Linked DNA regions of Homo sapiens. The protein of the gene in region 1 interacts with the protein of each later gene in a pairwise test. Each region holds a gene or a part of one and is shown in the gene's direction. Other genes may lie near its edges.

The links.
Region 2: the proteins of RBPMS (region 1) and KRTAP15-1 interact in binary tests that used the Homo sapiens proteins (3 or more experiments, as listed by UniProt).
Region 3: the proteins of RBPMS (region 1) and TUSC2 interact in binary tests that used the Homo sapiens proteins (3 or more experiments, as listed by UniProt).
Region 4: the proteins of RBPMS (region 1) and CNNM3 interact in binary tests that used the Homo sapiens proteins (3 or more experiments, as listed by UniProt).

The regions. Positions count from the first base shown.
Region 1 is NC_000008.11:30,499,123-30,507,434, forward strand, and holds part of RBPMS (RNA-binding protein with multiple splicing), read left to right. Parts: intron 1-1,410; exon of another isoform or gene 1,411-1,588; intron 1,589-2,153; exon of another isoform or gene 2,154-2,396; coding exon of another isoform or gene 2,397-2,456; intron 2,457-5,057; exon of another isoform or gene 5,058-5,163; coding exon 5,164-5,314; intron 5,315-8,312.
Region 2 is NC_000021.9:30,435,734-30,441,950, forward strand, and holds KRTAP15-1 (keratin-associated protein 15-1), read left to right. Parts: upstream 1-4,541; 5' UTR 4,542-4,594; coding exon 4,595-5,008; 3' UTR 5,009-5,136; downstream 5,137-6,217. UniProt on the Homo sapiens protein: In the hair cortex, hair keratin intermediate filaments are embedded in an interfilamentous matrix, consisting of hair keratin-associated proteins (KRTAP), which are essential for the formation of a rigid and resistant hair shaft through their extensive disulfide bond cross-linking with abundant cysteine residues of hair keratins.
Region 3 is NC_000003.12:50,324,229-50,333,287, reverse strand, and holds TUSC2 (tumor suppressor candidate 2), read left to right. Parts: upstream 1-5,064; 5' UTR 5,065-5,188; coding exon 5,189-5,334; intron 5,335-6,810; coding exon 6,811-6,931; intron 6,932-7,101; coding exon 7,102-7,167; 3' UTR 7,168-8,379; downstream 8,380-9,059. Other genes in the region: RASSF1 (ras association domain-containing protein 1), read left to right, coding at 1,134-1,238, 1,432-1,729, 1,839-1,954, 2,561-2,707. UniProt on the Homo sapiens protein: May function as a tumor suppressor, inhibiting colony formation, causing G1 arrest and ultimately inducing apoptosis in homozygous 3p21.3 120-kb region-deficient cells.
Region 4 is NC_000002.12:96,824,956-96,833,267, forward strand, and holds part of CNNM3 (metal transporter CNNM3 isoform 1 precursor), read left to right. Parts: intron 1-102; coding exon 103-246; intron 247-1,877; coding exon 1,878-2,027; intron 2,028-2,775; coding exon 2,776-2,945; intron 2,946-3,143; coding exon 3,144-3,240; intron 3,241-3,611; coding exon 3,612-3,745; intron 3,746-4,040; coding exon 4,041-4,179; coding exon of another isoform or gene 4,180-4,337; exon of another isoform or gene 4,338-7,013; coding exon of another isoform or gene 7,014-7,063; exon of another isoform or gene 7,064-7,596; coding exon 7,597-7,661; 3' UTR 7,662-8,312. UniProt on the Homo sapiens protein: Probable metal transporter.

The DNA.
Region 1 (8,312 bases):
TATATAAAAGGAGCAATGAAGGCAATCCCAGCTACTCGGGAGGCTGAGGCAGGAGAATTGCTTAAACACAGGAGGTGGAGGTTGCAGTAAGCCGCTGAGATCATGCCGCTGCACTGTAGCCTGAGTGACAGAGCAAGACTCCGTCTGGTGGCAGCAGGGAGGAGCAATGAGATTACTAAAGCACCATTTGGCAACTACAATAGTAACAGTTGCTTCAGGTAATAATTATTAATAGGTGTTAAAACTAGTAGATTTTTTTGAAAAACAACATATTTATATAGTCTGGAAATATCTGTCTATAAGAAACTACTTAAAAAGGGAAAACAGCATCTTTACAATAGAGAAACTTGGCAAATGATCAAAGCTAATATCACTCGTAATGGGACAAAAGTGACATCATGTGCCTCTTGATATTATGCACTGTGCAGGACATCCATCTCTGATCTTCCTGCCAAAAAATGCGTAACCTGAATCTAAACCAAAAAAAAAAAATTAGATAAACCCAAATCGAGGGCTACTCTACAAAATAAATAGCTTGTAGTTTTCAAAAATATCAAGCTCATGAAAGGTAAGGACTGAAGAACTCTTTCAGGAGACTAAAGTGATGACAACTAAGTGCTGTGTGATTCTGGATTAGATCTTGGATCAGGAAAACAAAGAGATGTCCTTGTTTTTAGGAAATCAAACTGAAGTAAAGGGTAAAAGAATAGCATGCTTGCTACTTACTTTTAATCAGTTCAGGGGAAACTGTGTGTGTGTGTGTGTGTGTGTGTGTGTGTGTGTGTTTGATAAATGTGAAATGCTAACATCTAAGAAATCTGTGCAAAGGGTATATAGGAATTATACTATGTCTGCAATTTTTCTGTAAGTCTGAAATTATTTCAGAATAAAGTTCTTTGTTAAAAGTAACTAGTTTTTAAAAACATAGCTGGTTGAATGCTGTGTCCCAGTAGGAAATCCCTTATTCCACCTCTCTCCTTTTGTTTTTAATTCTGTATTGGATTTTATAAATTATACATAGTTGTAAAAATTTCAAATGATGCAAAATTGTACAAAAGTCTGTGCCCTCTCTCACCCCTACCACTAAGTTGTCTGCTATTATTAACTGGTTGGTTGTCTCATTCTAAACCTTTCTGGACTTACACAGATAGAGAAGTATACATGCAGATGTATATACAGTCTCCTCTACCCCCATACTACCAAACATTGTTGAGTATCTTTTTTTTTTTTTTTTCAGGCTAATCTAGCCATGGACATCTTTCTCAATATGTATATATAGCTCTGCTTTGTTTCTAAGCATTTTTTTTCTAAATGAGTCATTCCATTGTCCCTAAAACTCATTGTCAAGGACTGATGGACTAACTTTAGCGCAGAACCATTTGTAACAACACTGGGAGCCTGAAGCTAACAGAATTGAAGTACTCTGTTTATTGTACCACATAACCAAGACTGTATCAGGTATGAGGGTGCTCTGAAGACCTCAGTGACAGGAATTTGGAGACTTTTTCTCTAGTGAGAGGCTGTTACGGTGACTCAGCTTTGGTCAACACCATTTTCTGTGTCTCTATATAGGCTCAAGGTTGAAATCCTTATAAGAGAAAACAGGTTTTGTCACTTTAGGCTGCAGCTGCCCCTTAAATAGGCAGCTGTGGTCAGAGGAATAAGGGCACAGAACACAGACATTGGCCCCTGAGTACCCTTCCCAAAGAAGAAGGCTTAGAGGGCAGTAGCCATCTCATCCCAGCTTCTCTTCCCAGGGCTGCTCTAATGGTTTCATATCTGATCTGTTCTAGTCCCTTCATTGAGTCTGTCTTCCCTACCACCCCTAGAGTTACCGCCAATCACTGTGATTCTCAAATGTGGTCCCTACACAAACAGCATCAGCATTACCCTGAACTTGTTAAAAATGCAAATTTTCAGATTCCATCTCAGAGCTACTGAACCAGAAACTCTAGCAAATCCTCCAAGTTGATGCTGCTAACATTTGAGGGTCACAGACCTACTACATAAAGCTGATCATATTATCCCCCCCATTTTTAAAACCTAATGGCTTAGCTGAGCACACACTCCAAAGTCCTCAGTCATGGCATAAGAGGTCCTTTGTGATCTCTCCCCAGTCTGCTTGTTCAGCCACCCCACCCCTGACCCCTCCCACCCCAACACCCTTTCTGCATCCTGTTACAGAGAAATTTGCTGAGCCCTTTCCTGAACTGCACCTGGTGAACTTCTACTCTTCATCACTTCCTCTGGTGCCTTCCCTGGCTCCCTGGCATGAAACTGCCCTGGTATACTTTTAAGTATACTGGACGAACAAGAATATGTTGTTTCTCAGCAGTGTCCTTTTAAAGATCTCCCAGAATTTGCCCTGAGTAGGGAATTCAGCCTCTGTAGATTATATGGAACCTGCATTTGTAGAGACTGTTGGCTGTCCAGTAGCCAGTCAGATTGGGGTGCTTGTAAGTAACTGTTTATATTCAAATTAATATACTAATATTCAGAAACTGTCCTTTCTGGTCCATGTAATAAATAGGACACCATTTACATTTGGAAGAGAAAGGTTCTCTGTTCATTGTGAGAAGAACGGTGAATTATGAGCAAGAGAGGAAAAGGTTGCTTTTGAAAGACACAGGTTCACCCTTTCACTTGGCAGTAATCTTATCCTGACAGCATTTAATGTGGAGTAATTGTAGCCAGAGAAGAATCTTAGTAGGCTTTAATTAAAAACACAAGGAATTTTTTTCTCTTGTCTTCTTCCTATCTGCCTCTTTTTCTTTTTTCCCTCTTCGTTTCTGTGTTCTCCCTTTTCCTGCCCCTCTTTTTTCTCCTCTTCATCATCCCTTAACATTTAAAATGTTTTTGGCTTGGCTAATCCCTATGGATGGAAACTTAGCTGCGCAGGATATTGATTACCAAATATGGTATTGCTGCTAAAGATGTTAGAGGAATGTGGCTTGTATTCTAAGCCTCCGGCCTCTGAATAAGCTGCCAAACAAATTAGGTCATTTTAACTTCTGAGCTTTTTTTTTTTTTTTTTAAATAAGGATGCTGGAACTTTGATTTGGAACATGATGTTGATGTTATTTTAGTTCAAATTGGGGGGCGGGTATGAAGAAGGGGGCAGGGAGTAGGGGAGACTTAGTTCAGCATGTTTTAGGACTCAAGCCGCCAGCCCAGGTTGTGTAAGAGGCAAACACATGATGTGGAGCTTCAGTTGATTCTGGAACACCAGTGAAAGAGCTGAGGCATAGAATTCACATGTGCAGCCTCATTTTCTGAGGCTAGATGCTCTAGACCACAACTAGGTCCCAGGATACTCTTCACATCATCCCCAGTGGCCTGGGCCACAGGACTCAGGTTAATGTGAACTCAGGTTTAGGAAAGTTGCTTCTTCACAGGAAGGTTGGTCAAGTTTAGTGCCGGGGAGGACGTCCTGAAGTTGATGGCAAGTTGCTACTATGTGTGTCTGATGGAGTGTGGTGCAAATGAGGAAGTCCTTTTACAGCATACCTGTACGTAACACCCAGGGACTGTGCTTGCCTCCCAGCAGAGACCACAGTTCTTAGGTCCATTCTTGGAAATATTAATTCTGTTGTAATATTAGCTTTGTTAGGGTGGAAGTTGGTCCACCTCAGTGAGGTCCTTTGTGACCTCACCCCAGCCTGCTTCAGAATGCAGCTTTGCTTTTTGTTTTTGTTTTTCCTTATATACTTTTTCTTCAAAATAATACTGAGGTTTCCCAAATTTAAAAAACAAAAATACAACACAATATCAGTTAAAGAAAATGTTCTTATGTTTCACAGAACAGGCACTATCTGTTCGCTTTTTGGTGTTGATTAGGTATGCACAAGGGTATTCTCCACATCCCTTTTGCTACTGCCCTCAGTTGGTTTCTTCTCAGAATGAGTGAGTCATGCTCATGAAGTTCCACCCACTCCAAGACTTCTGGGTCAGGGCTCTGTGGCTTTTGTTAGGCCTCCCTAAGGACCTCTCTTTCCTTCCCCTTCCCCCCTTGTTTCCTGTTAATGCCATTACCATCCAGCCACAGGCTCTTCCTTGTATACTTGAAGCTGAGCCTGTGAAGTTCAGAGTTGTTCATCCTGGTCTCTAGAGTAAGAGAGTCTTGTTTTTGTGGATATTTCTTTTTTTGAGACAGAGTCTAGCTCTGTCACCCAGGCTGGAGTGCAATGGCGCGATCTTGGCTCACTGTACCCTCTGCCTCATGGGCTCAAGCAATTCTGTCTCAGCATTCCAAGTAACTAACTGGGATTACAGGTGCATGCCGCCACGCCCAGCTAATTTTTTTTTTTTTGTATTTTAGTAGAGATGGGGTTTCACCATGTTGCCCAGGCTGGTGTTGAACTCCCGAGCTCAGGCAATCCACTCGCCTCGGCCTCCCAAAGTGCTAGGATGACAGGCATGAGCCACAACGCCCTGCCTGCTCTTATTTTTTTTCAAGCTCATTAGGAAGAATGGTGGCGAGGGGGCGGGGGATGCTTTGGAGCCCTCAGGCCCATGTGTGTACATTCAGAACACTAAATGGCAACTGTGTTCTTAGGAGACTCGTTTTCAGGACTCCAGTCCCTTTCCAGACCACACCATGAAAACATGGGAACTGAGTGGGTCCCATGGGTGCACATTTAAAATACACTCTCTTGGGATATCTTTTTGACACGTAGGGTCCAGAATTCATGGTATTGGATGCTTAATAATGAAGACATTCTTGAATGGTGGAAAGGTTCCAAATAGACTTGTCTTGCGCTAGTGTCTTTCATAGTGTCTGTGATTTGTTTTACTGAATATAATCTATTTTAGGTAAACTGCAGGAATAGGGTCAGAGGTAACTGAAATTACTATATATTAAAGTGTGTAACTGTGCTAGGAATTTGCTGGTTCAAATTTTAAACTGAAAAGTTTTTGTCTAAAAAGAAAAGGAATAGTTGAAAATCTGTGTAACTACATTTTTTAACTAAACTAAATCCCACTGACTTTCGGGACACTTTGTGTTGTCATTTTTCATGTAACCTGTGTAAGTAGTAAGAATGAGAGTGGTTGCTGACCTTTTTTCCTGATAGACCAGGGTTTACTGGTGTGTTTATTTTGTCACCATTCCGGTTTGACTCAAAGGAAATGAAAACATCTTCCATTTGTTCTCTGTTTCCAAAGGGCATCCGCTTCGATCCTGAAATTCCGCAAACACTACGACTAGAGTTTGCTAAGGCAAACACGAAGATGGCCAAGAACAAACTCGTAGGGACTCCAAACCCCAGTACTCCTCTGCCCAACACTGTACCTCAGTTCATTGCCAGAGAGCCATGTAAGTCGATCTACTTTTCATTCAAAAGTAATAATAACTAAGAACTGTTCATGTGCTGCATGTGAGGTTACACCATGGGACATGGAGCTGGCTGAGTCTTATTTTCCATTTCTGTGAAGAGGTTGCCTAGGCGTTCTTGGTGTCAGAATTCCAAATACAGCAATCTTGTTTGTGATTGGCTTCCCAAAAGATGGTTCAGCTTGAATAGAACCATAACTTCAGAATATCATTTGATGTACTACAGATTTCCTTAATGTTATATTGACCATCATGAGTATGCCCCTAGTTGCCTTGGGTATAAACCCTTCATTCCCCCCTGCTCGGACACGAGAGCTGGTTCTCAGCATTTACTTTAATCCATTTGTTGAAGGACATCAGCTCGGTGGCTTTGGAAAAATAGGATATTAAAAGAGAAAGAAGCAGATCTTGGGAATTTGGTTCTATTCAGTTTAGCCATAACTCTAGGGGGAAAAGTAAACACATACAAAGAATGTATATATTGGAACTGTCAGTCTAGCAAACTAATACCAGTAAAACTTTAAGGAAATTTGGGGCTTTCTTTTCCAACTTAATTGGATAAGGACACTGGCTAATTGCTCAAGACGTCTTCTACCCCACATTAATAAGCTTATTTCATTATATGTCCAGACTACCATTTCTGCCTTTCCCTGAATAACTTTAAAAGATTGAATTTGCTTTCTCAAGCTCAGTCAGTGGCAGAAGTGGGGCATGAGACAGGCCTTAACTTCTCCTTTCATTGCAGAGCCATATGTGATTTAATATGGCAGGGCATTCAAGGAAACCCAAGTGACTTGGATTCCAAGTTATTTGGAATATTTCTGTCCTGTTGTTTTTGGTCTGCTTTCTAAACCACACGGTTGTGATCTTCTTCCTTCGATAGTACATTTTAACTCTTCTTATTGAAATTGAAGGACACATGGATTCCTTGCTCCCCCCATGTCATGTGCATGTCAGATTTAATCAGGTTATCTTTGGAAGTCACAGCCATTCTGTAGTTCAGTCACTCTTGGTACTCATCAGTAGAAACTAACAGATAAGTCTCCCTGAATGTTCTAAAATAAATGTTTCTATGAATCCAGAAAGTCATAATAGATTAAAAAAAATTATTTTGTTCTTTCACCTTCTTTGTCCCAGGGAAACTAGAAACCTTTGCTTATTTGGGAAGGAAATCTAAACAAAAGTTACATCTTACAGTGTACTTGTAGTACAGGAGGATATAGGAACATCTTTTACATAATTCTTCATCCTTATAGTATCTAGCTTAATACTTTGTATATTGTATATATTTAATATTTATTATAGTGAGTGGATAAATTGATACTGAAATTGGGCTACTTGTAGAACTGTAGATGCATTTGTATGCCTCTTCTCTCTGAAATTTCTTCTCTCTTGATCAAGGCATCAAAAAAGAGTATTTTTAGGATGCCTGATTTAGTAAAAATAACCTAAAGTAATTCTTTGCCTTTTTAGTGAATTTGCCAGCCTCAGATCTCAGAGTTCTTTGAAAAGATTAATTCAGGCAGGAAATGTAATGCTGGTGATACTTAACTTTACCTTTTCAATTCTTTGCTGAATGCTCTTTTTAACAGGACCACGAAACTTTTTCTGAATTTCCTACAACAGCCCTGTGAAATAGGTAGCCAGGAAGGTTGTAGCCAGATTACGACATGCTATACAAAAGCAACAAATAGGAACAAACTGGACATTCACAAGTCCCTGAAGTTACAGGAGAGCATAGAAACTGAGCTTAGAACTCTTTTCTGGCAAGCTCTGCTCACCTCCCTTCCCAGCATACAGAACAGTGCAAAAATGGCCAGATAGTTTCCATGACAGGGTAAAAACTTGCCCAGCTGTTCACAGCAACACAAATTTGAAGTTTAAAAAAAAAAAAAAAAAAAAAATCCAAGCAGCCAGCAGTGTATTCTTGAGGAAAATAAAAGTCAGCATGATTTATCTTAATATAGCTCATTTTTACGACACAGCATCTTGAGGAGAGCAAGTCCACTATGGCTCAGGTCAACCTTATTATCCATTGCCATTCCCTCTGGGAACTGGGAACTTGACCGTCACATACAACTTGCTTACCTGGAAGCATACGGCAAGACTAAGAACACTGTGTTGGGTCTACACGGACAAACCCACTTGCATTGTACTCAGAATTGGTACTCAAGGTGGTCAGTTTAACTACTTATCAGGTGTAGAATATAATGGAATTGGAGAATTTGAGGATTGGAAAGGCCCTGAAGGCTAGTCTTTGTTGTAGGCCATAGAGGTTTTTTATAAATGTTTCTTTTGGTTACTGTTTTTATATGGTAGTGGCTGAAAAGCACTCGTTGCCATCACTAAAGGAAGAATGTTCTGTGGTTTGATTATACAACACACATACACTTGAACTCTCAATTCTCCATAAATATATGAACTTAATGAACTTAAACGAGCACCCAATGTGCTAGACCCTGGAGAAGAAGGAAATTGGTTGCTGCCTTAAAAGAGCTGTCGTTCCGGGGAGGTGATGGTGGTCAAAGTTGTCAGAAAAACTTGGCCCCATATGAAGGACATATAAGAGATTCTGCAGCTTAGTTGAGATTGACCCCGAATCAGACTGCCGTATTTGCTGAGCACCTGCTCTATTTGTGCCAGGGATGGAGAGTGAGAAAACCAGGTGTTGCAACTTAGCTGGGTAGATGGTGGCCTGCTGTGGAGAACTTTGGCTTCAGGCTAGAAGATGTCACTGAGAATCCTGTCGATAATTCTGCCAATTATTGACAAGCTTTGTGACCTTTAAGAGAAAAAAATTTTTTTCACTTGGTTGTGCTCCTATTCTCTCAGCTGTAAAATAGGAATAATACTTTCTGATTGTTAGGAGAGGTAAATAAAACAATATCCCAGGATTGGGCTGAGGATTAAATAGATATAGTGTATGTAAAGTACTAGGCAAACGTAAAGTACAATCATAATTTGTTAATAAAAAGCATTG
Region 2 (6,217 bases), on another chromosome or scaffold:
AGATCCCAGTGTCTGTTGTTTCCTTCTGTGTGTTCATGTGTTCGCATCATTTAGCTCCCTCTTGTAATTTACAACATGCACTATTTGGTTTTCTGTTTCTATGTTAGTTTGCCAAGGAGAATAGCCTCTAGCTCCATCCATGTTCCCACAAAAGATACGATCTTGTTCTTTTTTTATGGCTACATAGTATTTCATGGTATATATGTACCACATTTTCTTTATTCAATCTGTCATTGATGGCCATTTATCTTGATTCCACATCTTCGCTATTCTGAATCATGCTACAATGAACATTCGTGCGCAAGTGTCTTTAGTAGAAAACACAGAAAAACCTAGCCAGATATTTAGTAGTTTTTAAGACAAAAAGTAAGCAAAGAATATTAAAGCAGATATGCACATGTAATGTTACCCAGTTTTATTTAAACTTACGTTCTTCACTTTGTAAAATTTAAAGCAACTACTCTAGGGGAAATAACTAGGAGATACAGTAAGAGAAGTGTGCTTTGATATTGCATATCTATATAATTATAAATAAGCAGTTTTGACATCTTGCTCCAGTGAATATTTTCTAGTTACTGGAATTCAGATTATTCCTCATCTATCATGGGTAACAGTAGAAATCAAATTCGTAGGCAAATGATAGGATAGGAGAGCAATAGACGGTATGGATATATGGATATGGACACAGTAGGTATTGTGTTTAAGTTTCTGGTTCCTCAAACATAATTACTAAAAGTCATATTCACAGGCTGGATGGTAAGAAGCAGACTGGCAGCTACTAGAAGAATAGAAGGTTGGGTGGTAAAAGTTGGGTCTATAATTTAGGGATGTGAAAGCAATGGGACAATAACCCATGGATTGGAATACACTGGATACAAAGCCCAGGGATGGAGAGCCACAGCCAAAAGATTGAAAGCCCCTGGATCCAAAGCCCAGAGATCCAGAGTAAGTCATCTGGCAGGGCCTGCAGAGTATAGAGGTTCTGGGGCAATAGCAGGAGATCTGGCAGGTGCTGGACACTACACAGGATGTCTGGCACCTGCGGAGCTCCCAGCAGGTCTCCTGACAGCCCCTGTAGAGAGAAGAGCCCAGCTGGCAGGTGCTGGGAGAGCAGAGGTCAGTGCTGTAGACCAGTTTGCTGGGGTAGGAAGAGCCACAAGAGAAGCCTGGGTAGCGCAGTTATGCCCCACAGGGCGGGAGGAGAAGTTTCCAGAGTAGCAGTTGTAGGAGAGAGTTGACTTACAATGACAAGGTTGTGACTTTGAATGTCACTTCTTGGACCTGGGGACTTATATGCCCTTAACATTGGGTGTGTCATCCACATGGCACATAAAATAGGTTACCTGCCAACTTTAAATGAATTAAAAAGATAATCATAGTCAGACATATGTATTTATTGTGATTTTACAGCTAGGAAGTGCAGTAATGTTTGTGCCTTGGGATTCAGTTAATAGTGTTGACTCTTTAAAGCTATTACTCATCTTCCCTTACCAAAGGTCACTCTTCAGATAACTCAGAGAATCGCTTTAGAGGTAGACAGTGTCTGGGCTGAGGGAAGCTGCCTTAATTAAAAATAATTGATACCCATTTCACAATCTGTCTCAAAATTGTTGCCATCTGGTGCACAAAGTTGCCAGCTAACCAATCTATTCATAGTCATTTCTTTCAAACAAAAACATACATTCACTGTCACCGCAAAGTAGCAAGCTAACTTAACGAAGAATGTCATCAGAAAGCAGCAATGGTGATATGCAAGATATAATGTCTTTTTAAAAATCAAACTTCAACTGGAACAGCTTTAATGAAATATTAACTGAGATTCCCTTATTTTCTGTGCTCCTGTTTAAAACTGTATGCAGACTATTAGGAGCCAATCTTAGCTTTTCTTTCCTTGGGTGTGTGTTTACTGTTGAGTGAATTAAAAATAATAAATTGCTTTATGTATTTTGGAATGGTCGAGATTATTCATCTAAGATGCTTAAAAGGCATTAAAAATAAAAACAGATCATGTGTCAAAGATGCCTAGTGTATTTCTACCTCTAATCAGAGTCAGTGTTTCCCACTAAAAGAATTCCCCAGAATCTGGAAAAGATTCCTGTTTTAAAGAAAGTTTATAAAGTAACTGCTTTGAGATGGTGAGACAAAGGCAGCATCTTAGGAAGATTCTTCCTTTGCCTCAAAAATAACATACATGACTTTGACGTAAATTATTTTCAGGTGTTTCTGACAGGTATTACAACACTTCTAAAATAATGGTCATATTTTCTCTTGTTCTGTGACTTGTATTTCACCTTGATGTAATGGTGTAATGAGACTGATATCTTGAGGAAGAGGAGAGATTGAGATTTATCTTGCTGTGGTTTCTGTGTTGTTTGATTTGCTCATTTTTAGAAAAAAGTTTCCATTCCACTTCTGAATGAAAGTAGTTGAATGCAAAAAAATCCATACTTTGAGAAAAGAATGTGCGACATTACTTAATATCTGATCCCTCAGAGTATTCTTCTACTGAAATTGCTTATATAGGAATGGATGACATTAAAACAAGAAAGCAACTTCAATTTAGGCGGGCTAAATATTTGTGTGGCTATTTTGATATTCAATATTTTATTGACAAACACAACAGGAAGATTTGGAATCTACTAGAATGCTTTTTGGCTATTAATAATTGAGAAGCCTAATAAATAAGAATTGTTTATTCCAGAAACACAGAACAAACTATGTTACTTAATAAATGAAACATGATTGGAGATCAATTTGTCTCCTCAAAAGTTTAGACTTATAAAGTCTACAATTTGGAAGGAAGTTGAGCAATTATCTCCAGCCTCCTGTCAGATTGGAATTCCACTTACAACATCCTAATTAGATTTTCCCAGGGCCCTCAGTATGGAAATATCATTAATTGCAAGAGCAACTCATTTTAGATTTTTAGCTGAATCTTCCCCTAAAACTTTTACCTAGTAATCCTGATTCTTCATAGAAGGGAGTCTCAGTTCACTTCCATTGTAGAATACATCAGTTCTGAAGATGGATGTCTTAAGAGGTTTGCCCATTCCCACAGGTTAAGGCATTTCCTGCATCCGTGCCATATATCTATTTACAGTTTGCTCTGATGAACTTTCTGAGCGAATCCAGAAAAATCCTCATTACTCTAGTACTCTAGGCAGAATATATATGTCAGCTGATACATCAGAGGTCACAAAGGCATTCACTCTCAATTACACATTATCATCATGTATCCTTCCCACCCCTTTATTTCAATTTATAAAGTCATTTGTTACTATGAATTCTTTACATATTTTATCTTTCTGTGAATACTACATGGGATAGACATTTCCCTCATTTCTTGCTTTTCTTTTCCCTCTCTGGTAAAAATGTCACCCTCTGAGAGAAAAGAAAGGAAAAGATTAACGATTTACATTTTACTTATAGTGCTTATTATTTTCCTCTCAGTAACATCAACATGACCAAAAATTACTTATACCTTATGGGGATAAACGGTTTTTTATAATCAAACTTATTGATGACTTCTATGAAGAAGCAAATCAACCTTTGAGTAAGGGATTTCTTTAGTAGTTTTACAATGTAAACTTCAAAGCACTTGTTCAAAAATTTCACCCTTCATTCTTAACTCTTCATGTGCACAAGAGTGACTTAGCTACTTGTGTTATAAGAAATCTAAACTTAAATATGTTAGGCACTCATTTAGCATGTCTACCAAATAAGGATTGTTATTGGGTTATTTCTTCTAATGGTTCAAAGAATTGAAAGAAGGAATAGATATTGAAATTTTTTTTCTGTTCTCAATTGAATTTATAAAATTGGAGCAAGATCAAAGTCCCTTCCAGATTACAAGGTATTTTTCAGATCTTTACAAATACCAGAACTCTCAGTGTCTTAGCCGTTTGATCCAATTTCTAGAAGGACAGGATGAATGAAGCATCAAGTTTTTTTCTTTGTTTTTTTGTTTCTTTGTTTGTTTGTTTGTTTTGGAGATGGAATCTTGCTCTGTCTCCCAGGCTGGAGTGCAGTGGTACGATCTCGGCTCACTGCAAACTCCGCCTCCCGGGTTCAAGCAATTCTCCTGCCTCAGCCTCCTGAGTAGCTGGGATTACAGCCGCCCACCACCATGCCCGGCTAATTTTTGTATTTTTAGTAGAGACGGAGTTTCACCATGTTGGTCAGGCTGGTCTGGAACTCCTGACCTCGTGATATGCCTGCCTCAGCCTCCCAAAGTGCTGGAATTACAAGTGTGAGCCTCCGCGCCCGACCCTTTGAAGCATCAGTCTTATAGGTACAATTATGGTGGTTTTCATTCTACCTAAGCAAGATGAATGAGAAATGGCATTTTTGTTTCATGAACAATTGCTTTGAAAAACTAATGAAATTCTTTCATGTAGAAGTCTACGTTCATAAATAAAATTCTTTGAGTGTTAATATATTTCATTTTGACTGCAGCCTAATTAAGTGTTCTCATTAGAATGGGCACTTGTGACTACACCTATTGCTAGAGTATGTCAGTGTCCAGTATAGAAGGTAACATTCACACACACACGCTCCTCACTGCAAATCACCTGAGCTCAGAACTCCTGTTAACATGTCTTACAACTGCAGCTCTGGAAACTTCTCCTCCTGCTGTTTTGGAAGTTACCTGAGGTATCCAGTTTCCACTTATAATTTGTTCTACCCCAGCAATGCCATCTATTCTCCAAATACCTGCCAACTGGGCTCCTCTCTCTACAATGGCTGTCAGGAGACCTACTGTGAGCCCACCAGCTGCCAGACATCCTGCACTTTGGCCAGATCCTATCAGACATCCTGTTACTGCCCAAAGAATTCCATCTTCTGCAGTCCCCGCCAGACTAACTACATAAGATCCCTTGGATGTGGAAACACTGGCCTTGGATCTCTTGGTTGTGGAAGCACTGGCTTCCAATCTCTGGACTGTGGGTCCAGCTTCTACCACCCAACTACCTTTTCATCCAGGAATTTCCAGGCAACTTGTTACTAACCAGCCTTTGGGTCTCGCCTTTTTGGATCATCTTACTGAATATTCTCCATTCTCTCATGATTATTTCTGTACTCTATGGAACTGCAACACTCAGCCTGTCCAATATCTGTGATTGTTGACCATCTACATCAGTAGGACTCAGCATCCTAGCCCTCTTGGAAGTATATGATTGAACACGGACAAATTAATCTTGACCTAGGACCCTTCCTAAATCTGACAGGAGATATATCTTGAATTTCAATTTTTGTGCCAATGCTCAGGATCATTTCTGTTATCATCTTTCTAAAATCCTTCTCTCATTATTTTCCCAGAACTCTTCCACTCAAATATATTTCAAATAGTTACAATATTTTAAATAAGCTTATTTCTTTGGCATGAATTCTGGCATTCCATTTTATTTTGTTAATACAATACACTTAGGCTGGGCATGATGGCTCACACCTGTAATCCCAGCACTTTGGGAGACTGAGGCTGGCGGATCACTTTAGGTCAAGAGTTTGAGGCCATCCTGGCCAACACAGTGAAAACCCATTTCTACTAAAAATACAAAAATTAGCAAGGCCTGGTGTGCACCTATAATCCCAGCTACTCAGGAGGCTGAGGCAGGCGAATCACTTGAATCTGAGAGACGGAGGTTGTAGTCAGCTGAGATCATGCCACTACACTCCAGCCTGGGCAACAAAGTGGGACTCTGTGTCAAAAAATAAATAAATAAATAAGTAAAAATGATACATTTAGTGAATTCATCCCATATCTTCAACTGTCTTCCTTAGGTACACTTTTTGTTTGTTTCATATGTTTTATTGATATTTTGTTGAATAGAAAACAAAGTGCAAAGAAAATTTAAATATATAACCTATCACATGTTTTAAGAGATTTAAATCCCCTCATAAGTGCATTTTTTATATATTTGCTTCAGAAAATTTTGTTTTAGTCTTTCATTGAAAAAAAATTTATTGAGGTCCTATTATATACCAAGCATTACGCTGAACAAAGACACAAATTCTCTGCTTCAGGAAGTTCCCACAAATACAATTATAACTTATATGGCAAATGGAATAATGGGGTGAAGACAAGATTCAGTGGGAACACAAAGAAGAACTTCAAAAACACTCAGAGAAAATAATATAAACCCATTATTGAAAATAGAGTAAATAAGTTACACTTAATTTTAGAATAACAAATCTTACTGATCTATTGTGTCCATTG
Region 3 (9,059 bases), on another chromosome or scaffold:
TCCACTGGTGGCTGGACTACTGATGTGCACCACTCTCCACTCCTCTCACCCTGCAGTGGGTCATGGCCCCGTGCCGGGGCAGAGGAGAAAAATGGGCTGCCTTCTCCAGGACAAACCCTCACTCCAACTCAACTAGGGTGCTGTGATCAGAATGTGCAATTGAGGTGTGATTTTACTGATTTTTTTTTTTTTTGAGACCGAGTTTCGCTCTTGTTGCCCAGGCTGGAGTGCGATGGCACGATCTCAGTTCACTGCAACCTCCACCTCCCGAGTTTGAGCAATTCTCCTGCCTCAGCCTCCTAAGTAGCTGGGATTACAGGCATGTGCCACCACGCCTGGCTAATTTTGTATTTTTAGTAGAGACGGGGTTTCTCCATGTTGGTCAGGCTGGTCTCAAACTCCTGACCTCAGGTGATCCACCCGCCTCGGCCTCCCAAAGTGCTAGAATTACAGGCGTGAGCCAACGTGCCCAGCCTGTTTTTGTTTTTTGTGTTTTGAAGCAGGGTCTCACTCAGTTCCCCAGGCTGGAGTGCAGTGACACGATAATAGCTTACTGTAGCTGCAATCTCCCGGGCTCAAACGATCCTCCCACCTCAGCCTCCTGAACAGTTGGGACTACAGGCACACCACCACACCTGGCTAATTTTTTTTTTTCTTTTTTTAGTAGAGATGAGGTCTTGCTATGTTGCCCAAGCTGGTCTCAAACTCCTGAGGATCAAGTGATCCTCCTACCTTAGCCTCCCAAAATGCTGGGATTGCAGATGTGAGCCACCACACCCAGCCTGATTTTACTTTAAATGAGAGTCCCTCTTCAGAGTCCCTCAGCTGTTCCTGGCCCCTGGCCATGTGCCTTCAGTTGCCCCTGCTTCTGTGGTATCCTTAAGGCTACATTCAGTGCTGAGGCCCTAGGCAGGCAGCAGAGAGAAGCCAAATGATTCTGTCTTTCCCTTATCCACCCAGAGCATGCAAAACCAGGAGCAGTGGTGGGTTCAGGGTGGGCACCAGCTATGTATATGTACATCAGGGACAGGGGGCCAAAGGCAGTCAGTTTCCAAAGACTGCCCCAGAGGCCATTTTTCAGAGAAGCCCTGGGTTCCTCAAGGGCCCTGTGTCCATGCTGGCCCATCTTGCAGGACGAGCCTGTGGAGTGGGAGACACCTGACCTTTCTCAAGCTGAGATTGAGCAGAAGATCAAGGAGTACAATGCCCAGATCAACAGCAACCTCTTCATGAGCTTGGTGAGTTGACTGCTCAGGAAGGGGGCGTGGGGAGGAGCAGGTACCCAGCTATGTGCCTGATACTCAGAGGGTCACAACTGAGGTTATCTTGGGTGGGCGCAAGCAGTAATTTGTGCATACCCAGCCTAGCCCCAAGTAGACTGACATCTCACCTGGAACCTATTATCAAGGTTTGGTTTCTCTATTTCTTTAGAACAAGGACGGTTCTTACACAGGCTTCATCAAGGTTCAGCTGAAGCTGGTGCGCCCTGTCTCTGTGCCCTCCAGCAAGAAGCCACCCTCCTTGCAGGATGCCCGGCGGGGCCCAGGACGGGGCACAAGTGTCAGGCGCCGCACTTCCTTTTACCTGCCCAAGGATGCTGTCAAGCACCTGCATGTGCTGTCACGCACAAGGGCACGTGAAGTCATTGAGGCCCTGCTGCGAAAGTTCTTGGTGGTGGATGACCCCCGCAAGTTTGCACTCTTTGAGCGCGCTGAGCGTCACGGCCAAGGTGGGCTTCCCACCCCACCCTGCCCTATGTGAGGGTATATACGCATGCACCTGAGCATGCAGGGGCTGAGCAGCTGGCCCTGTCTCTGATCATTACTTCCCCTTCACAGTGTACTTGCGGAAGCTGTTGGATGATGAGCAGCCCCTGCGGCTGCGGCTCCTGGCAGGGCCCAGTGACAAGGCCCTGAGCTTTGTCCTGAAGGAAAATGACTCTGGGGAGGTGAACGTGAGTACATAGTTCTTAGTTTCTTGGTTGTCACTAGACAGGACTGATGGGCTGTAGCTACAGTAAGGCTTGGAGGAGGAATTGTGCTGGAAGACAAGCCCTGCAAAACAGTTCCAGGAGTGTATAGGCATTGTAACTAAAGCAAAGGCTTCCAGACCACTCATGCCAAAGCCTAGGGTTGTCCCAAGAAGCCAGGAAGAATTGCCTTGGTGCTTTGATCTTTCCTGGTGTGGAAAATCTTCTGGAGATGCAGGAGTCCATCTAATGACATGAGGAGGCCCCCTTCAGACTTTTTACCTGGAAGCTTTCTGGCTCCAAGGTATTAGGCCTGTGGAGTGAAATTAGACTCAGAATATGCCTGACCTGTCCACAGGTAATTGGGGAACATCTGACTTGGTTGTCTCAGTAAGGTGACCGTTTTGTAGGGCCCATCTTCCATACAAACTGCTGTCAGGGATCCTACCAGAGATCATTCAGCCAAGAGCCTGACATCAGAAAGCCCAGTCCTAGCTTGTGTGAACATGAGGTGCTAGTCTTCTCTGGGGAGGGTCTGCTGGCTTGGCCATCCCTTCTGCAGCCTGTACACTCCCCTTTTGCCCCTTGCAGTGGGACGCCTTCAGCATGCCTGAACTACATAACTTCCTACGTATCCTGCAGCGGGAGGAGGAGGAGCACCTCCGCCAGATCCTGCAGAAGTACTCCTATTGCCGCCAGAAGATCCAAGAGGCCCTGCACGCCTGCCCCCTTGGGTGACCTCTTGTACCCCCAGGTGGAAGGCAGACAGCAGGCAGCGCCAAGTGCGTGCCGTGTGAGTGTGACAGGGCCAGTGGGGCCTGTGGAATGAGTGTGCATGGAGGCCCTCCTGTGCTGGGGGAATGAGCCCAGAGAACAGCGAAGTAGCTTGCTCCCTGTGTCCACCTGTGGGTGTAGCCAGGTATGGCTCTGCACCCCTCTGCCCTCATTACTGGGCCTTAGTGGGCCAGGGCTGCCCTGAGAAGCTGCTCCAGGCCTGCAGCAGGAGTGGTGCAGACAGAAGTCTCCTCAATTTTTGTCTCAGAAGTGAAAATCTTGGAGACCCTGCAAACAGAACAGGGTCATGTTTGCAGGGGTGACGGCCCTCATCTATGAGGAAAGGTTTTGGATCTTGAATGTGGTCTCAGGATATCCTTATCAGAGCTAAGGGTGGGTGCTCAGAATAAGGCAGGCATTGAGGAAGAGTCTTGGTTTCTCTCTACAGTGCCAACTCCTCACACACCCTGAGGTCAGGGAGTGCTGGCTCACAGTACAGCATGTGCCTTAATGCTTCATATGAGGAGGATGTCCCTGGGCCAGGGTCTGTGTGAATGTGGGCACTGGCCCAGGTTCATACCTTATTTGCTAATCAAAGCCAGGGTCTCTCCCTCAGGTGTTTTTTATGAAGTGCGTGAATGTATGTAATGTGTGGTGGCCTCAGCTGAATGCCTCCTGTGGGGAAAGGGGTTGGGGTGACAGTCATCATCAGGGCCTGGGGCCTGAGAGAATTGGCTCAATAAAGATTTCAAGATCCTCCTGCTGTTGGAATCTTTTATACATATAAAGTTTTTGTAGAGACATGAGTCTCTCTGTGTTGCCCAGGATCCTCCCAACTTGGCCTCCCAAAGTGTTGGGATTACAGGTGTGAGCCACCCTGCCCAGCCTGGACTCTTTATTATTATAGGCGCAGAGCTGCAGTTGCCCCTCATGGTGCCAGAAGTTGCCAAGGGTGATGGACAGGCTCCCAGGTGTCTTGCAAAGTCACCATGGACCAATTTGTGAAGATGTAGTATGCATACATACTTGGTCATCACTCAGCTCCCTGGGGCTCAGGTTGTGGTGGAGACAAAAATGGACTGCAGTTAGAACTTAGGGAAACTGGCTGGGCATAGTGGCTCACACCTGTAATCCCAACACTTTGGTTGGGCTAGGTGGGCAGATCACTTGAGGCCAGGAGTTCGAGGCCAGCCTGGCCAGCATGGCGAAACCCCATCTCTACCAAAAATACAAAAAAAATTTAGCTGGGCGTGGTGGTGGGCGCTTGTAGTCCCAGCTACTCAGAAGGCTGAGGCAGGAGAATCGCTTGAACCCGGCAGGCAGAGGTTGCAGTGAGTGGAGATCACACCACTGCACTCCGATAGAGCAAGACTCCAACTCAAAAAAAAAAAAAACGGCCGGGCGCAGTGGCTCAGGCCTGTAATCCCAGCACTTTGGGAGGCCAAGGCGGGTGGATCACCTGAGGTCCGGAGTTCAAGACTGCCTGACCAACATGGTGAAACCCCGTCTCTACTAGAAATACAAAAAAATTAGCCGGCATGGTGGCAGATGCCTGTAATCCCAAGTACTCGGGAGGCTGAGGCAGGAGAATCGCTTGAACCCTGGAGGCAGAGGCTGCAGTGAGCCGAGATCGTGCCACTGCACATTATCCTGGGCGACAAGAGTGAAACTCCATCTCAAAAAAAAAAAAAAACAAAACCATCCCTTCAACACACACACACCACGCTCTGGGAGAAGGTGTGGCATAACTCCTTCACCAAATACAGAGCTGCCACCGTGGACCAGACACTGCTCGTGATACCGAGGGTATAGCTGTTAACAATTCTTGCTTTCATTAAGCATGGACTCTGCTGGGTTTGAAAACACTGAATTCGAAGTTCTTCAGAACTGAATGTAACTATGTGAATCTGGCCAGTTCCTTAATTTTCTTTCAACTTGGTTAGTTCACATAAGCGTGGCAATCGCAAAAATACAGCTGTGAAAATAGAAGCCAGATGGGCACCCGGCGGTCTGGCCTTAGGCCCTGAAGTGCAGGTTTGAGGATTGGTGCTTGCGAAGTCCTGCTAGGCCTGAACTCAGGTGTTGGGGGACGTCAGAGCCGCCAAATACACCCAAAAGACCGGGAGGACTCACGGCCACCACTTTCCTCGGTGGGAGCTGTCCCAGCTGGTCAGATCGCGCTTGCTGGGACCTGGGATCTCGCAACGCATGCTGGGATGCCCAGCATCTAAGGGCGCCCATTGGTCCCGCCCCCACGACTTGAGCAACAGCCAATCAGAGGTGGCAGCGTGCGGAAGCGGAAGTGAGGTTTCCGTGGAGACAGCCGAGCCTGCGGAAGGCGGCGGCGGCGGCACCTGCGATCAGCGGCTGGGGCAGGTTATGGTAGTGCGGACTGCGGTGTGAGCAGAGCGGCCACGGGGCCCGCCATGCGCCGGCGGCCCTGACATGGGCGCCAGCGGGTCCAAAGCTCGGGGCCTGTGGCCCTTCGCCTCGGCGGCCGGAGGCGGCGGCTCAGAGGCAGCAGGAGCTGAGCAAGCTTTGGTGCGGCCTCGGGGCCGAGCTGTGCCCCCCTTCGTATTCACGCGCCGCGGGTAAGGGCATGGGTTCCACCCTGGCGGGGGGAACAGGCGGGCGGCCAGGCGTCCCGCGCCACGGGGGAACTTCCACCGCTGTACCCCACTACAGCCAAGCCAGGACGACCCCCATATTTTGAGCCTCATTGGAGCTGGGGGTGGAGAAAGCCGGGCAGTGGTCTCCTGGCGGCCTGGCCACTCTGAAAGTCTCCCTAGGGAAGAGTGGGCCTGAGGCTTGTCACTGGTCGGACCTTCCGCACGGTAAAGCTAAGCTAGGGCCTCCATAAGACCTCCATAAGATCTCTTCCTTTCATCCCTTCCGGCTCAGCCTGCATACTGAAGGGTCCTAGCCTCCCTTTCCCCCCCAGTTATTCCAAGGGGATAATAACCCTCTGTTTAGGCTGCTTTTCCTGACAGTAGTGGGGCTGAACCTTTGAGCGTAGTGGCTGGGAAAGCAGGGATAGGCCTCAGTATTGGGGGTGAGGCTGAGGAAAAAAGACCCTCACCCAGTTATGTTCTCCAGATCCAGAGCGCTGACCTACCCACCCAACCCCCAGCCCAGTCTCCCAGAGGCCCGCACAAGAGTACCAGATTGGCTTGGCTCTAGTGGGCTCCTGGAGATGGGCGCTCCCTGTGCTAGAGATTTGGCTGTAGACACCAGGAAGACCCAACAGTGGCAATTCACCAGCCACCTGGGGTGTGGGGTCAGGGGAGACGCAGCCTTCATTCCTTTGTGCTTCTTCCTAGCTTAGGCTTCTGCTATTTCAGTCTTTGACACTGGGCCAGCAGCATCTTCTGGAGTGAGACCAACATGCCCAGGCCACCACCCTGCCCACTCTAGAAGTCCTGGGTGAAGGCAAAGTCCTGATATTAGAATGGCTGCCCTTGCTGAACAAATCAAGGATGAGAACTGGCCTTGGTGGCTGCCTGGATGGTGTGCTCTGGTGTGGGCTCTCTTCTTGGGGGTCTGACATAGTAGCACTGCCCACCCATCACCTCACTTCCCACTTTCTTCTAGTAGACCCCAAACCCCAGGCAAAGGATTCTCCAGGCAGGCCAGGCACCGTGGCTCACGCCTGTAATCCTAACACTTTGGGAGATGAAGACGAGTGGATTGCCTGAGTTCAGGAGTTCGAGACCAGCCAGAGCAACATGGCAAAACCCCGTCTCTACTAAAATACAAAAAATTAGCAGGGTGTGGTGGTGCATGTCTGTAGTCCCAGCTACTTGGGAGGCTGAGGCAGGAGAATTGCTTGAACCCAGGAGGCAGAGGTTGCAGCAAGCTGAGATCGCGCCACTGCACCTCCAGCCTGGGCAACAGAGTGAGATTCTGTCTCGAAAAATTTTTTTTAAAAAAAGGATTCTCCAGGCATATTATCCTCTTTTCTTCCCACTTGGGGTTGGGAAGACCACAGACTTCCCCGTGACCTGTGACATTTGCCATGCCCAGGTGTGGGGCTCCAGCCCAGCCTGTTTCCTTCTCCCTCTACACAGCTCTATGTTCTATGATGAGGATGGGGATCTGGCTCACGAGTTCTATGAGGAGACAATCGTCACCAAGAACGGGCAGAAGCGGGCCAAGCTGAGGCGAGTGCATAAGAATCTGATTCCTCAGGTGAGGGGCTGGGCAGCGGTCACAGAGCCTACACTAAGCGTGTGGAGGTGGACCCAGATGGGATCTGTTGTCATGGTGGGGGCTTTTGCGGGGGGATCTGGGAGGAACAAGGAAGCTTCCTGAAGTAGAGGCCCTGAGCTGACCCTTACTAGCCTCTGTTTCCATGGCAGGGCATCGTGAAGCTGGATCACCCCCGCATCCACGTGGATTTCCCTGTGATCCTCTATGAGGTGTGACCCTGGGAGGTGGCAGACAGAAGCACCCCCTGCCCCGGCAAGAAACTCCCAGGCTCAATCAAGGTGTGGCTTCCATTGAGGAGCCCAGGCTGGGGCCACAACCCTGAATAAACTCTGTTGGCCCATAACCTTCAGCTGTGAGCGGGTCGGTCCCACAGTATTGGTTGGGTGTTGGTTTGTGTGTGGACAAGAGGTGGTTGGTGGGTGGTGAAGGCTAATGGCAGAGTTAGCACCCCACTCTCCCAAGCCACCCCTGCAAGCAGCACAGCAGGGCATATACCAGTCAGGAATGCCCGTTACCTGGTTCCTTGCCTGGTCTGCTTTCTTCCAAGTTTGCCTGGGGCCTAGCCCTGCTAGAGGCTACAGCACTTTACAAGCAAGGTATGCTTTCTTCCAGCCCCTAGGCTGTGGGCACTGTATACAAGTAGGAACTTCCTTTCCTTCACTTCCCTTTTAACCCCTAGTCAGAGCATTTCAGCCGTTTGCTACCTCGATTCCTCCTGTGTTGGACAGAGGCTGGGGGCAGTGCCAGCCTGATTCTTCCGACCTACCTGCCATTTGTTCCCGCCTTCAGATGGATGGACAGTTTGCTGGCTATTGATAGGAGTGGGGACTGGGTGGGGGCTTCTCCCTCTACCCAGGGCTGGGCTGATCCCCCTACTGCAACTAACTGTTGCCCCCCAACCCCGAACCCCCAGTTGAGGAGTTGAGAGAGTGCAGGCTGGGGTCAGGACAGGCTGCGGATGCTTGTGCCTATGGGGAGTTACTCCAACCCACCTATTCTGTCTAATCTCCATGGCTTTGCACCAAATCCTCCACCCCTCCAATTGGGAGGGGACTGTTCACCACCTTGTGGTAAGGGACAACACCCTAAGGCTGGTGCCAGTAGTTATGAGTAGCCTACCACCCCCTCCCTTACAGTAACCCCCACCCCTTCAGGATCAGTCAAGGGAAAGCACTAGAACCCCTGGGTAGGGAAAGAAAGGAGGGAAAAACCATAAAAGGAATACTTATAATGTGAAGGTTTGTAAATAGTCCATGATGATGTCGTGGCAGAGTCTGATTTCTATATAGAGGTGACTTTTTTTTTAAGTACTGTGCAAGCTCTGTGCTTCTATAATGTGGGAAATGGCTTGGGGAGGATGGCCCCTAGCTTAGGAAGACTGTTGTGTTATTTGTTCAATTTCAATAAAATGATTTGTAGATCCTGCACATGAGAGTGGCATCCTGTGGGGGCTCTGACACCCAGTGTCTAGACTACCACCTGGGTTCAATAGGTAGGCCTGGCACAGGACTCTGGCAGGCCCCCTATGACCAGCAAAGCCCAAGAGTAAGTCTGAGCCCAGCCTGTGGCCATCCCAACTGTGGCCAGCAGGTGGCTGTGTGTTCACACAGACCTCACTGCAGGCCCCCTGCAGGGTGGGAGGGCACTCATTTATCTGTTGTGATCCATGTGGTGGTGACCCTTGGAATCAGAAGGCCCTGGGATACTTCACTAAGGATTGGCCCCACCTGCCTGATCTAAGGTGAGAGAGTGTGACCCAAGATAGTTCTGGAATATCTGTCTTAGCTGTAGCATCGCCAGCTGATCCTAAGTGGGGTCATGGCCTGACCCCCATGGACCTCAAAGGCCCAGCTTTAATGGACAGCAGCCAGATAGGTGTCCCCACGCCTTTGGCCTACTGCCAGGCTCAGCAACCCAAACTCATGTGCCTCCTCTGAGGCCTGCCTGCGGACACCATGGGAGAATGAGCTCAGGCTGCTGTTTCAGCAAGCAAGGCTCGGCCCACTAGTATTGCCCCTGCTGTCTGTTGCCCCCATCTTCTCATCACCTGCAGCCTGCCCACTGTGGTCATTCTGCCTGCACTTCTCAGGGGCTGCTATAAGGCAGA
Region 4 (8,312 bases), on another chromosome or scaffold:
CATGAACGTTAGCCGTGTCCTTTTGGTGGGCCTATACCAGGGGAGATGAATCAAACTGGGGGGGGCCCAGCAAGCTGTTCCATGAGTGTCCTCCCCCCACAGGGAAGTCCCACCTGGCCATCGTGCAGAAGGTGAACAACGAGGGTGAAGGCGACCCCTTCTACGAGGTCCTGGGCCTGGTCACCCTGGAGGACGTGATCGAGGAGATCATCAGGTCCGAGATCCTGGACGAGTCTGAAGACTACCGTGAGTCCAGACTCTTGGCAGTTCTGTCTCCGCTGGGCCTGCACACTTCCCCAGGCGTATGTTGCGTCAGAGGCCAGTGGGCCTCTGTGCTGCTGGAACCCAGCAAGATCCACAGCCAGGCCCCCTTCTGAGCCCTGCATGGGTGCTGGCAGAGAGCCCCCTTGCAGGAGGGCTCACGCCTGCACCTCCACACAAGCATGGTTGCCTGTGCCAGCGGTGGCCTTGCAATCCCAGGGCTCACCTGGGGCTCCATTAGCAGCAGTCCTATTAGTTTCCTCCATTACTGAGAGAGCTCTGCCCTTCATGGGCCTTTCCCAGTCTTCTGTCTCCCTAGGTGCTTTTGTTTTTGCAGGTTCTTTTGTACATTACAGAAATGTCCCCTGAAAGAACCCACTGTTTGCCATGAAGAAAGTCTTCCTGGCTGGGCGCAGTGGCTCACGCCTGTAATCCCAGCTCTTTGGGAGGCCCAGGCAGGCAGATCACGAGATCGGGAGTTCGAGACCAGCCTGGCCAATATGGTGAAACTCCATCTCTGCTAAAAATACAAACATTAGCTGGGCGTGGTGGTGCGTGCCTGTAGTCTCACATACTCAGGAGGCTGAGGCAGAAGAATCGCTTGAACCTAGGAGGCAGAGGTTGCAGTGAGTTGAGATCACGCCACTGCGCTCCAGCCTGAGAGACTGGAGGGGGTGGAAATAAGTCTTCCCAAAGCAGCTGATCCCGTGCCCTTGATTGCATGGTAAAAGTGTCCGCCTGTTAGCATGGTGGCTGAGGTCTGCAGGGCTGTACAGAGTCTGTGCGTCATGGCCGGGCCGCCTGCCCTGCATGCTTCCAGAAGTATCGCTTTAATCATGCGTCGATTTTCAAACATAGCATCTCTAGTTCCGTTCTTGAGACTGCCATAGGCATGGGGTCTCCAGGTTAATTGCTGCCCATTTGCATTGGTAATCCTTGAATACATGCTTTATAGTGAGAAGTTTTTCAGTGGCCAGAGAGGCTGTTATTATTTTTTAATTTTTTTTTTTTATTTTGAGACGGTCTTGCTCTGTCATCCAGGCTGGAGTACAGTGGCGCATTCATGGCTTACTGCAGCCTCAACTTCCCAGACTCAAGTGTTCCTCCCACCTCAGCCTCCTGAGCAGTTGGGACTACAGGCGCATGCCACCACACCCGTCTAATTATTTTATTTTTTTGTAAAGACACGGTCTCTCTATGTTGCCTAGGCTGGTGTTGAACTTCTGGCCTTAAGTGATCCTCCCGCCTCAGCCTCCTAAAGTGCTAGGGTTACAGGTGTGAATCACTACATCTGGCCTAAATTTAAAAAAGTTTTTAGTCTACATCCAGTGACCTATCAGGGATGCTTGTTATTTTATACAAGCTGCTTTGTTATCATATCAGCATTCTCTTCAGCCAGCTCCAAGGCAGATAGTCACCCCTCTCTCTGTGTGGTTGGGGTGGGAGCAGGCCCCGTGGAGGGAGCGGTGCTGAGGACATGTCCCTGGCGTTCCGATGCTGCTCCATCGAGGACCCCCTGGCCTCAGGAGGAAGGAGCAGGCGATGCAGCCCCTTAGTGTGGTCGTGTTGACTGACAGGTGGCTGATGCCTGAGCGCGCCCTCTTCTTCCATCTTAGGAGACACCGTGGTGAAGAGGAAGCCTGCTTCTCTGATGGCCCCTCTGAAGCGGAAGGAGGAGTTCTCCTTGTTCAAGGTGTCTGATGATGAATATAAAGTAACAATCTCGCCTCAGCTGCTCTTGGCCACCCAGCGCTTCCTGTCCCGAGGTGAGGCGGGAGGGTGGTCCATGCCCCCTGCTCTCCTCACCGTTCTGTGGGTCAGGAGGCCGCCCAGGGCCGACACTGACTCTGCTCCCCACTCCTAGCAGGCGGGTGCGTCTTGAGGACTTCTGTGTTCTCTGCAGCCCTGCCAGCATCTTGGGTCATGGGAGAGACACCTCCTCTCTGCCAGATGACCAAGAGCAGGGCCAGGCCAGTGCCACGCCTGGTGCACCACAGCCAGGGGGCCTCAGCTCTCAGCTGGGCGGATGTGGGGTGCCCTGCCCAGTTCTTTTTTTTTTTTTTTTTTTAAAGATAGGGTCTCGCTCTGTCACCCAGGCTGGAGTGCAGTGGCACGATGTTGGCTCACTGCAACCTCCGCCTTCTGGGTTCAAGTGATTCTCCTGCCTCAGCCTCCCAAGTAGCTGGGATTACAGGCGTGTATCACCACGCCCAGCTAATTTTTGTATTTTTAGTAGAGGCGGGGTTTTGCCATATTGGCCAGGCTGGTCTCCAACTCCTGACTGCAGGTGATCCACCTGCCTCAGCCTCCGAAAGTGTTGGGATTACAGGCGTGAGCCACCGCACCTGGCCCCTGCCTAGTTCTCTTGTGTTGAGGTGTTAGGGGCAGCTGCTCACAGGCCACCCGGGAGATCCCTGGTGGGCACAATAACTTTAAATTGCCTACAGTGTTGGGTGTGGTTCCACTGGCCACTAGGCCCCAGTGGACACTGTCCCTTTTTTCCACCACGTGCAGAAGTGGATGTATTCAGCCCGCTGCGCATCTCTGAGAAGGTCCTGCTGCACCTGTTGAAGCATCCCAGTGTCAACCAGGAAGTGAGGTTTGACGAGAGCAACCGGCTGGCCACACACCACTACCTGTACCAGCGCAGCCAGCCGGTGGATTACTTCATTCTCATCCTGCAGGTAGCTGTGGGTCCCAGGCCTGGAGTCCCTCCTGCTTCCTCAGGCCAGGGAAGGGTCTAGGAGAAGAGGGGAGCAGGGGCATGCGGATATGCACCCTCCCACCCCAAACAATTGAGGTGGTGGGTTTCTCCTTCCGCTGTCTTCTGACGGGAAAGGTAATCTGGCCGCATCTGTTTCTCTCCTTGCCACTCCTCCCAGGGCAGGGTTGAAGTGGAGATCGGGAAAGAGGGTCTGAAGTTTGAGAATGGGGCCTTCACGTACTATGGAGTGTCGGCCCTAACTGTGCCATCCTCGGGTAAGCCACGGCCCTGCTGATGCTGAGGGCCAGGGTGGAGGCTGCAGAGCCTGTCCCCCATCATCACTTGGGCTCTCAGTGCCCCTCCTCACCTCTCCTTCCACCTGAGCCCACCACCCCACAAGGTGGTGTAGCCCCTGGGCTTCCAGGAGGGAGGGCAGCATTCTTCATCGCTCAACTTTGTGGCCCACTCCACCCCTGCAAAACCTCTCCCGGCTGTGTTTGTCCTTCTCTCCCAGCTTCCCATGCACATTGCCTCTCCAGAGTGATTGGTGGGGTGGGTCTTCGAAACTGTACAGTTGTCCCCACCAGGGGAGGAGGCTCCCAGCTGCCAGCATGGCTCCTGCCATCACTGATTGTTCCTTTGATAGTTCACCAGTCCCCGGTGTCCTCGCTCCAGCCCATCCGCCATGACCTGCAGCCCGACCCAGGTGACGGCACGCATTCATCTGCGTATTGTCCCGACTACACCGTGAGGGCGCTCTCTGATCTGCAGCTCATCAAGGTGACTGCCTGGGCTGCTTGTGGGTGCTGGCTTTAGCCGACTTTGTGTCACCGGGGGCTAGACCAGCTGGTCTGAGACTGCCCGGAACAAGGCCTTCCACTCATCCTGAGGGACACAGACCTTTGCACCCAGTTTCCAAGCAAGGTCTTAAAAACACTTGACTCAGTTGCTCTTCTCTGCCCTTAACTAGCTTAAAGTTGTGCCTCTGTCCTCTTCGGGCACGGTGTCACCTTTCCTGCCTACCTTCTGCATCTCGCTTCACCAATTGGGTCCCAGTAACGCTGTCATCCTCCAGGTTACGCGACTGCAGTACCTCAATGCACTCCTGGCTACCCGAGCCCAGAACCTGCCACAGTCCCCTGAGAACACCGACCTGCAGGTTATTCCAGGCAGCCAGACCAGGCTCCTTGGTGAGAAGACCACCACAGCGGCAGGTGAGTGCCAAGTGGTACATCGTGCATGGTGTCTGGACCTGAGGGCCGTGAGCTCACACACACAGACTTGCACTCTCGCCGCCCCCCCACCCTCTGTCTTTTTTCTCTCTTTTCTCCCCATCCTTTTCCCTTCTTTATATATATATATCTATATATAAATAATTTTTTTTTTTTTTGAGATGGAGTCTTACTCTGTTGCTCTGTTGCCCAGGCTGGAGTACAATGGTGTGATCTCGGCTCACTGCAACCTCCGGCTCCTGGGTTCAAGCAGTTCTCCTGTCTCAGACTCCTGAGTAGCTGGGAATACAGGCGCCCACGACCACGCCTGGCCAATTTTTGTATTTTTAGTAGAGATGGGGTTTCACCATGTTGGCCAGGCTGGTCTTGAACTCCTGACCTCAGATGATCCGCCTGCCTCACCTTCCCAAAGTGCTGGGATTACAGGCATGAACCACTGTGCCCAACCCCCTTCTTGCTTTTTTTTTTTTTAATTCATTATTCAACTTGAACTTCTTGCTGTCTTTAATAGCATGGATGACACCAAACTATAGACTAACTGGTATTTAGAGTAGAGTATAGTAAGTCGGTATTTCTCTCAAGGACGTCTTAGAATGGATTGACTTAATCAGAGATTTGTTGGGAAGTGGGAATAAGTTTTAGTTCAGACACTCTTTTGGCCATTTAAGATTAAGTTTAGGTCACTTTGAGTCAGCAGTGGCCCTGGCTTAGAGGGTGTGTGGCTGGCAGACACCATCCTAGACACTAGAAGGGCATTTGTGAAGAGTTTGGTCAGTTCATACTAATATTTAAGCGTGGCCCATCCAGTGCTCCACTGCGAGCAGGAAGATTGTGTTGGAAGAAATTTTGCAAATCGAACTAAAGGTTGTGGGATATGGAACCCCATCCCCACACTGCAAGGAGGGAGGTGAAAGAGTCTGAAGTGTAGGCTGTGGGTAGGAGTGGTGAAGGGTTTCTTGTTCTTGTTTTTCAAGAAGATACTTTAATTCTGATTGCGTTCCTAAGGTTGGGGTCAGAGATATGCCTGAACTTGAGATTCCTGGAAGAGCTGGTGGGGCTGTGGAGGGAGCTGCAGGCTTGCCTCCTCCCACCCCCACCTGCCCCACCACGAGGAAGACAAGCTGTTATCAGCACTTCCTCTGCCAGGCACTGTGCTAGGAGCTTCCATGTCTAACTCTGCTAACCTCCCCGTGGCCAGAGGGCTGCTAGCTGTTCTGCCTGTTCTACAGGGCAGGAATGAGAGCCAGAGAGAAGGCCCAGGGACTCTGACCTGCTTCCTGTAGGCCTCCCGTGGAGCCACTGTGGCTGCTCAGACCCACACTCGAGAGCACAAACATGTTTTTCTAATAGTCCTTTCTGAATTGTGAGGTCACATGCAGGTGCAAGGGACAGAAATCCCACCCTGGGCCATGTGGATGCTTCAGCCCCTGTGGGCTCCAGATCTGGGTGTTGGCAAAAAGGCAGCGGGTGAGGTCGTGCTGCTTAAGTCTTGGATCTGGGGATGGGTTGCATCTCTTCCTAAAGAGATCTCTCTAAGGATGGTGCTGCACTTTTTTTTAAGAGATAAGGTCTTGCCATGGTGCCCAGGCTGGCTTCATACTCTGGGCTCAAGTGATCCTCCTGCCTCAGCCTCCAAAGTAGCTGGACGAGTAGCTAGTGCCGCACCTTTTAGGGTTGTTGAGGCTTCTGTGCTTACCCACTGTGATGGTTTCTTATTGTATGGGGTGCCCCTTCTACAGAAGTTCACATTGTCACATTACACTGGGGTCTCAGAGGCCAAGGTTTTAAAAATGGGAGTCTTTTGGTTTTGGTTCTCCCACATGTGAGCCTTTTTCTGGCTCACTGCTACTCAGACTGCACGTGTTGTAGTGAAGATACAGACCTAATCCCAAAATAATGCTCTTCCCATCACTGCACACCCGGAGATTTTTAAATAATCTTCACTGGGCCGTCCTGTAAGAGAATAGTTGATAGTGGCTTTGTGGGTCATTTCCTCTTTGTAATGGATTATTCTCTAGACACAATGTTGGTTATTTTCACTTAAGTACAACCTGACAGTTGCTTCAGTGAGGCTGGCCTGCTGTCTTTCTGTTTCTTGCCTGAACTCGGGTTGTCCTGCATTTTGTCCCGTGAGCTTGGCACTTCACTGTCCGGAGGAGCGTAGGGCCGCTGCACACCTGGAGATTTTGGTGGGGCACTGCTTAAATCATGCAGATGAGAACCAGTTTCTGGAGACCTTGGCACTAGACGCCCAGCAGAGAAGTGCCTTTTTTGAGACTTGGAAGACACAATAATTTTAAATTGCCTACAGCAGGGGTTGGCAAATAGTGGTGCAAGGGCCACATCTGGCTAGCAGCCTATTTTTGAGAATGAAGTTTTATGAGAACCCACACATCTGTTTGTAGATTGCTATGGCTGCCTTTGAGTTACAGCAGTGGAGCTGAGTAGCTGTGACAGAGACTATATGACCTACAAAAACTAAAAATATTGGTCCTTTACAGAAAAAGTTGTCTGACCCCTGGCCTACTATTTCAAATCCTGGGTAGGTCCTCCACGTCAGTTCTTCATGGAACTGTATTGCCGAGGGAAAGGCAGTCCCCACACTGTGCAGCCCTCCATGCTGTGCTCCTGGCTTTCTCTGCCATCCTGAGCCGCAGGCTGTGGGGCAGCGCAGCACCAGCACTGCAGCTGCCAGCTCTCCCTCAGCTTCCCCTGCCCGGGGCACCGGCCCTCTCCATGGTGCTGCCCGGAGCCAAGAGGCACAACCATTTCTGCTCAATAGCTTCTCCTCTTCTTTCTCTCTCTGCTCTCTTTAGCCTTCCCAGTAGACCTTTCCCTCTTTGGCACAGTTGGAAACTGCAGTTGATAAATGACTGTGGACTAGTGCGCGTTTTTTGTTTTCAGAGCACACGTAAGGTAAATATCTTCCCTCTCCCTGCCCCTTCACTTCCCTTTCCTGGCCCTTCAGCTGAGGGAGGAGCAGAGCCCATGGCTCCCCAGGCTGGGGGGCATTTTTCTCCAGGGGTGTGGGGTGGGCGCTCCCTTCCATCCTTCTGGAAGACAGGAGGGGTCATGAGACTCCTCCACTGTGGAAAATGGTGCTTCCTTCCAGCACAGGGTGCTGTATCGTCCCGGGAAGGTGCCTCTTGTTCAGCATAATGACCTGGGACCCTCGGGGCCAGAAATCCACAGCCCCAGCTTCCCCGTCTCCCAGGGAAGGCATCTGTTGGCTGACCATCTGCTAACCAGTCGCTCCTGTTTCTGCTCTGATACTTCCCAAGGCATCCCGAAGCACCTGTCTTAGCTGCCCCTTCCTGTCCCACAGAGGATTTGGCACTTGGTTTTGACAGGATACTTTACCAGCTTTGATGTTAATTCTCCTTCCCTTGTCTCCTGTAGGGTCCAGCCACAGCAGGCCCGGCGTCCCGGTGGAAGGCAGCCCTGGGCGGAACCCAGGCGTTTAACGGCTCACTAGGCAGCCCCAGATCTGGGGAACAGATGAGCACGTGGGGAGCTGGAGTGAGCTGAGCAGAAGTTTTGTGCCCGCCTGCCCCCATCCCCTCCAGGCCACGTTTTAGATGGCCCTTGTAGTTGCGGGTCCTGGGTGTCCTCAGAACTAGACATCAATGCCTGGATCCTTCAGCCGGCCCTGCCCTCCTTTAGGAGACAGGAGTCACCAGGGCACAGCCCTCCAGGCCCGCCTCAGGAAGGAATGAAAGGAATGCCATCATCTCTAGTTCCCAGGGCCCAGCCTTCCCCTTCTCCCCCGGGGCAGGGACAGTGCGGCATATTCAGATTCAGACCTCTTTGGGCTGAGCCACCTTGTGAGTGCAGTTACTGCCTTTGTGTGGCCGTGACCTCTATTTGTTTGCTTTTAATTTGCCAACCTATCGCTGCTGGCAGCACTTTTTGAGCAAGCCGAGAGCACCCATTTTGGCTGGGGGTTCAGATCGATGGCCTTGTCCATGTTGTCCTTTCTGGCTTCCCTGATGGTGTCATGTTTCAGCGCATGCGCCCCAGCCTTTCCCATGTGCCAAACCAGAAGCTCCACTGCCCGTAGGCTGTCCCTGTAGCCCTGCTCCCTCCCTGGAGGCTGCTCTTCTGATTCTGAGAGC